Linked DNA regions of Homo sapiens. The protein of the gene in region 2 purifies or fractionates together with the protein of the main gene of each other region. This does not show direct contact. Each region holds a gene or a part of one and is shown on either strand. Other genes may lie near its edges.

Region 1 (3,828 bases), on a different chromosome or scaffold from region 2:
TATAGTTTTGTGTATCACAGGAAGGGAAAAGTGAATTCACAGCTCACACATAAAAAGGAAAAAAAAATACTACCCTTCTTCCTATTAGCTCTCCATAAAGGTAATAGCAATATAGAAATAAATCTAAGAAAGGTTTTTTATTACAATATAGTAAAAATATAATGTTAAAACCTAATTTTTTAAAAAAATCCCTTACTTGATTAGCTGACAGTATATAATTATCAAAACTCATTAAGCAATTCTCTAAAAATAGGTGAATTTTATTGTGTATAAATTATACCTCAAGAAAACTGAGGTCAAAAACCTCCTCTAATCATATTTTCTTCATAATCTTGATTCCACATAAGTAACAACCTTACTTTCTAAGAAACATAAAAGGAACAATTTCCTTAAAAATTTTAAGACATTAGACTAGAGGCCGATGATACAACAACAAAGGCAAGCTGCCTGCCCTAGAGTTTATGGTTGCTTGGGGGGAGTGTTTGGGGGAGAAAGGGGATGGCACAGAATGAATGCCCAAAAAATATTTGCTAAATCAATGAATACATATTCATAAATAATTAACACAAGATAAAAGTCAATAGTGACACATACAGAGTTTGTGGTTGCATGAAGGAAAGCTGCAAGACAGATGGGGTAGAAGCCAGCTAACAATTAGGAGTTCACTGCAGTTAGAAGACTCTTACTGCTTCACTTCCAGGCAAAGCAAAGAGTAACTGTGAAGATATAGAAGAATTTTCAAGAGAATAAAAGGAGTTGAAGGAGTTGAAAAGTAGTTAGGAATCTGATATGGAAAGGTGTTATATTTTCCAGAAAATCTGAAGTTCATTCTATCAATGTTAGGAAAGGATTTTAGGCCAAAGAATGACCTGACCAGATTTGCCTACAGCAAAAGAAAGGATGAACTGGAAAAAAGGGGGAAAACTGTAGGCAGAAGACATAATAGTCTAACTAGTCCTATGATTATCATTTAGTGTCAATAAATTTCTGTAAAATTTATAATGAAGTCAAGCAGACCTTTTTAAAATTCAGTACTCTGTCGTACCTACTGTGTAAGAAACAAATTTTTATACTAGCTTTCTTTTTCCTTGGAAATTTTAAAAATCATCCCTCAAAGCCTAAGTGAAATTTACAGAAAATCTTCCCTTATTTCTTGTTTAAAGATTTCATCTTTACCTCCTCCGTACTTTCATAGTCATTTGTTTATCACAATAACCTAGGTAAATTTATTTCCCCTTCTAAATTGTGAAAATTACAGTCAGGAACTCCCCCAATCCTAATAATGACAACTTAGAAATTAATAGCTATCATTACTTGAATATCTCTTAAGTGCAAATTGTTATTAAGCACTTTAATACAGTTTTTCTAAAAGTCACAATAACTTTCTTTTCAAGAAATGCAATCTGAGAGTCAGATTAAGTAATTTGTTCAAAGTTCCACATGTATACAGTGAAGGTTGGATTCAAATCCAGACTTGTTTGATTCTTCACCCCCAGCTTGCCATACTTCTTAGCAAATTGTATTAAATACCTTCCTAGTAGGTACATAATAAAATACATGAACCTGGTTGAAATAATAAAACTCTGCTACAAAAAAGAGATACTGCTTATGTATGTTAACTTAATTCTCTTTTATGTAAAGAAAAATGCTTCTTATACATCATTTTGAGGAATAATAGCAAGATTATAGAGCAATTTATGTGCATTTTTTTCAGATAATTTCTATTACTACCTAAAAGCTATAAGCCAATAAGGTACAATAATTTAAAGAACTGAACCTAAAAAATGCTGCTTAAAAAAAATTAAAAATTACACATTTAATGATGCTTTTCTTTGAAAAGATCTTACTCCAACAATACTCCAACTGCTTCAAGATTTTTGAACACCTTCTTCTGAGATTTTATTTAGGACCTTTTATAATTAAAACAAATAATGACTATCACCTGCAGTTTGTAATGTGCTAGGTGATATGATAAATACAAAGACCCCCTTCTTCTCAAGAAGATAATACAAACACAAATAAATACAATAAAAGGCAAAATAGGGCCAGGCACGGTGGCTCATGCCTGTAATCCAGCACTTTGGGAGGCCAAGGCGGGTGGATCAACTGAGGTCAGGAGTTTGAGACCAGCCTGGACAACATGGTGAAAGCCCATCTCTACTAAAAATACAAAAATTAGCTGGGCATGTTGGCGGCACCTGTAATCACAGCTACTTGGGAGGCTGAGGCAGGAGAATTGCGTGAACCTGGGAGGTGGAGGTTGCAGTGAGCCAAGATCTTGCCACTGCACTCTAGCCTGGGTGACAGGTGACAGAGCAAGACTCTGTCTCAAAAAAAAAAAAAAAAAAGGCAAAATAGATGAATAGTACACAATTCAAAGAAAGTAACGGCTGTGGTGATCAGACACTTGAAAAAAGAAGGTAAACTGAGAGGAAGGAACAGGGTATTCTGGGAACTAACAAGGAATACCGAATAGTCACTGTAGAAAACAAACATGGGGCCAGGTGCAGAGGGGGTGCTCAGCTATAATCATTGCACTTTAAGAGGCTAGAGTAGGCAGATCACTTAAGCCCAGGAGCCCATGACCAGCCTGGGCAAAATGGAAAAAATCCCATCCCTACAAAAAAAAAAAATTATCTGAGCATGGTAGTGCATGCCTGTAAGTCCCAGCTACTCAAGACGCTGAGGTGGGAGGATCACCTGAGCCCAGAAGGTTGAGGCTGTAGTGAACTGTGATGGAGCCACTGCACTCCAGCCTGGGTTGGAGTGAGACCCTTTCTCAAAAAAAAAAAAAAAAAAGGAAAAAAGAAAGAAAATTAATATGGAAGAAACTATACTCTGTGGAAGATTAACCAACTTACAGGGATGGATTGGGGCAGGTATGAGACCAAAGGGAAAAAGACCAATTGAGAGGCTACAGAGTTAGTACGGGATAGGAATTAAAGGTTCTCATGCTTTGGAGAAAATCAGGCTTCTGTATATATAAACCTCAAACTTCTAACAAGAATCAACACTGCAGAGAAGAGTTCGCCATTCAGTGGGATGCACCTAATGCAATGAGGGAAGCAAGGGTACCACTGAGGTTGAGAAAAAGACAAAAAGACCTACCCAACCCTAAGAGTGGCAATGGAAGCTTTTAGTTCCATATGACACTAAGAGCTGTGTGTGATGACAATGAACAAGAATTTCTTGTATATTGCAAACTAATTAGAAGAGTATATTTTGAATGTTCCCATCACAAAGAAATGATAAATGTAGCTGGGCATGGTGGCACACACCTATATGGCTACTCAGGAGGCTAACACAGGAGGATCACTTCAGCCTAGGAGTTTGAGGTTGCAGTGAGCTTTGACTGCAAGACCTAGCACTCTGGGGTGACAGAGTGAGACCCCATCTCACAAAAAAAGAAAAAGAAGAAGAAATGAAGAAATGATAAAATTGGAAGTGATGGATATCCCTGGGTTTATTACATATTGTATGCTTGTAACAAAATATCACATGTACTCCACAAATATGAAGTAGTCTCTATAAAAATTTTTAAATTAATTAATTTCACATGGCTGTCAGGAACATTAAACAAATTAAGTTTTAAAAAGTGAGTGACAACAATGTCAAATACTCTAAAGAAGTCACAGAGGAGTAAGAATGAAAAATAGGGAGTAAATATGGTGATATGTTCATAACAGATAATCTTTAAAAGAGGAATGTTAGTTGGTAGGTGGGGGCAATACTCAAAAGGTAAAGAAATGAATCACAATAAAGCTGGTAGCAAACACTTTTTACAAATGTTAATGGTAAAAAGGAAGACAAGAAATAAGGAAAACAGGC
Region 2 (3,828 bases):
TTTCCCTCTAAAAAGGATAGAGGTTGAGTGTCCCTAATCCAAAAATCTGAAATCCAAAATGTTCCTCAAATCCAAAACTTTGTAAGCATCAACACGATACTCAAAAGAAATGCTCACTGGAGCATTTCGGATTTTCAGATTAGGGATGCTGAACTACTAAGTGTAATGCAAATATTCCAAAATCCAAACTACTCCTAAGCATTTGAGATATGGGATACTCAAACAGTATTAATATAGTAGTAATAGTCCTAATTAGGATTTGCCCTTCTAGGATGCCATATGCCAGAACAAAACGACTGGCAGGCTTCAGAACACAGAGTGACAAAAATCAAAGTGCTACGCATGAAAGATGATTTTAGCAGCTGTACGGATATGTGAGATATTAGGACTGCATTACAGGGCTTTAAATAGGCCAAGAACATGACAAAGAATCCTCTTCTCACTAAAGAGAACATTATATCATTTCATTTTGGGTTATGTATTCCAGAGGAAAGAAATGTTCAGATAATGAAGTGTGTCTGTTAATATGCATGTCTTTATTTGTGCCTCCATGAAACAGGTCTAAGCTGTGTCCTCAAGGAAGTAGTTAGCAAAGTAAGCTCAGGGTTTGAAATCTGTGTGTAACTTTGTCCAAGCTAATTAACCTCTCTTCACCTGTCTCCCCATTTGTAAATGGAGATTCAAATAATTCTCACACTATAAGGTTTGTAATTTGATTAGAAGATATAAAACAAGTAAAATGTAGTGTAAAGCAGTGATTGGTACATAATTAGTGATCAATAAATGAATGACTGCATGCATTTATTTTTAGAGACGAGTCCTATTATTTTAGGGATGAGCCCTGTCACCCAGGCTGGAGTGCAGTGGTGTGATCATATCTCACTGCAGCCTCGGACTCTTGGGCTTAAGAGATTCTCTTGCCTCAGCCTCCTGAGTAGCTGGGACTATAGGTATGTACCACCATGCCCGGTCTATTATTTATTATGTCTTTTTTTTTTTTTTCCGAGACAGAGTCTCACTCTGTTGCTCAGGCTGGAGTGCAGTGGTGCGATCTTGGCTCACTGCAACCTCTGCCTTCTGGGTTCAAGCGATTATCCTGCCTGAGCCTCCCAAGTAACTGGGATTACAGGTGTCCGCCACCATGCCCGGCTAATATTTGTATTTTTAGTAGAGACAGGGTTTCGGCATGTTGGCCAAGCTGGTCTCGAACTCCTGACCTCAGGTGATCCACTTGCCTTGGCCTCACAAAGTGTTGGGATTACAGCCGTGAGCTACTACACCCAGCCAGGTACAATTCTTAAAGTGTTAGGAAGAAAAAGGTGAACCTTAGATGTAATGAAATAGTGTTTTGTATATTGAAGGTTACCAATAAGTATGCTATGAAGGATCCAAATACTGTTACTTTATAATCATGTATGATTTTGATAGCTTTATGCTGTCTAAACTTTATGTTTGAATAATGAAACTTTTTTGTTGATTTCTAACTATGTAGAGGCAAACAAAACCAAATTTAAAAAACCCATTTTTAATACATCCCCTTCATGTGAAGGGCCTTTTTATCATTTCATGACCTAATATCAATATATAATAAACTTGTTTTTGTTCTAAGGTTCCAATTTTAGTTTGCTGGGAGTAATTAATTAGGTGTCTTGGATACAGAAAACTTTTCTGAGTTAAAATCAACTCACCTGTAGAGACTGAAGGAATGGTAGCCAGACTTCACATGGCAGTTCACTTTCAGACACTGAAAGCAGTAATTCGAAACAACTCCTACAATAAAAATGAGTAAGTATATAAAGGTGGTTATAGTAATAATTAAGTAGAGTATGACAGCAATACTAAAAATCTATTTTACATTTGTTTAGGCTATTTTAAATGTTTTTACTCTTCAAAATTTGCTTCAGAGTTGTTATATTGACTGTTCAATTTAAAAAGGAGGAAAAAAAGAAAGACCACAAGGCTTTATATTTACATTGTTGCTTTAGTACATTTGGTAAGAATATAATAAGCTCTTTAGAAATCACATTCCAAGCAGTTTTATTTTGTTTATTTGGGTGTGAAGAGGCACCCATATAGGACAATTCTAATTCCAGTAGACAAAAATGGGAGCTCATACTACTGTCAATTCAGCTGATAAAATGATAAATGATAAATATATGTAACTGTTATCTATAGGTTTCTGTCACTTGCAGAGGAAGCAGGAAGACTGGCAAAGTCGTTTCTTTACCTGTAAAAAAAACCAAGCAAAAGAGTTTCCTTTTTCTGACTATTATCCAGAAGACACAGAAAAGAAATAACAGGAAGATTTTTTTGAAAAAAGAAATGCACTACAACTTGAATAATGAGCAACTCAAAATACCAATGAATCAACATCTCTCTAAAACCCTACAGAATAATCCTTTACCCCTTAGGGATTACAATAGGTAAAACAGAAACTAGGACTTGGTAGAAGGAAAAATATGATCATAAAACCAGGAATGCTGGTCTTCCATAAAGGGCCACTGGAAAATAGGAAGGAAAACAGGTGAGGCTAGAAAAAAAATAAAATAAACCATCTAGACTAGAAGTCATCTCACTAAACAATCTGTAAGTTGAACAAGGTGATGCCCAGCTAAAACTGATTGGCTGTTGTATCTTTTCAATTTGCAGATGAAAATTACAATAAAGGTGTAATTTTGTCTGCTACTATGCAGCTAAATATTAAAATAACAGCTAAATCACGTTCTTTTTTTTTTGTTGTTGAGACAGTCTCCACTCCACCACCCAGGCTGGAGTGCAGTGGCGCCATCTTGGCTCACTGCAACCTCCACCTCCCAGGTTCAAGCGATTCTCGTGCCTCAGCCTCTTCCCAAAGTGCTGGGATTACAGGCGTGCGCCACCATGCCCGCGCTAAATCATGATCTCTTTCTTAGGATGGTAATCTTATACTGTACCCTGATATTTTTTGCTAATAAAATTATTCTTAGTTCAAATATAATCAAATTGCAGAATTTCATGTTGTTTTTGCCAAGATGTTCTTCAAGGACTACCAGTTTCCAGGTATTCTGTCATTTAAATCAATCTATACCTAAGGGATAGAAATATATCATTCTCAGATTCCAAGCCTGAATAGGAAAAGAGACTCTAGAGGCAAGTTAAAGATGATGTTGCTTGGCTGGAGCTTCACTTGGACTATATCTCCTGGGAACGTGAGTAGGAAGGAAATTTCATTCAATGGTATGACTCTAATGGTGCTCTGAAGAATAAATGTGATGCCACTGTAAAGAGAAACCAGGCAAACAACACGACCAATGGTACTCAATTTTAAGAGTGATTTAAGTTCTCAAACTTACAGTACTAATCTGCCAAGCACTAAGAGGACATCTTCACATTCAGTAGTTAAGTATGGACGTGCACTGGCAAAGCTTTGGATGGCAAGTCGATATACCTCCAGAAGATACACAATATGTTCTGATGCATTCTTGTTGCTTGCATATTGCAATAAGGTCTACAAAATAAAATTAAAAATTATTTACAAATAAAAATAATGAAACAGATTGTCTTTGTCCTCAAACACACCACATAGCTCTCCCATTTTTTTTCTAACAGATGCATATACCTTTTATTTGCCTTTTAAGGCTCTGGTTTGTTTAGAAGCTTCTATTTTCATCACTTAATGAATGATTTCTGCTGAGTTAAAGAAATGGCAGAACTACTCTTTTGATGTCAGAATAATTCTAAGAGTAGAGCCATAAAATGTCTAGTTGTTCTCACTATAGGTCTGGAGTTGCCATCTCTATAATTCAATAATGAGTTTTCAACCATGTGCCAAGCACTGGGTACATAAGA

The links.
Region 1: the proteins of RLF (region 2) and ZNF280D purify together in Homo sapiens (affinity purification with mass spectrometry, with the first as the bait; one large-scale study listed by BioGRID). This does not show direct contact.

Annotation. Positions count from the first base shown.
Region 1 is NC_000015.10:56,660,501-56,664,328, forward strand, and holds part of ZNF280D (zinc finger protein 280D), read right to left. Parts: intron 1-3,828. UniProt on the Homo sapiens protein: May function as a transcription factor.
Region 2 is NC_000001.11:40,188,714-40,192,541, reverse strand, and holds part of RLF (zinc finger protein Rlf), read right to left. Parts: intron 3,488-3,828; coding exon 3,333-3,487; intron 1,771-3,332; coding exon 1,689-1,770; intron 1-1,688. UniProt on the Homo sapiens protein: May be involved in transcriptional regulation.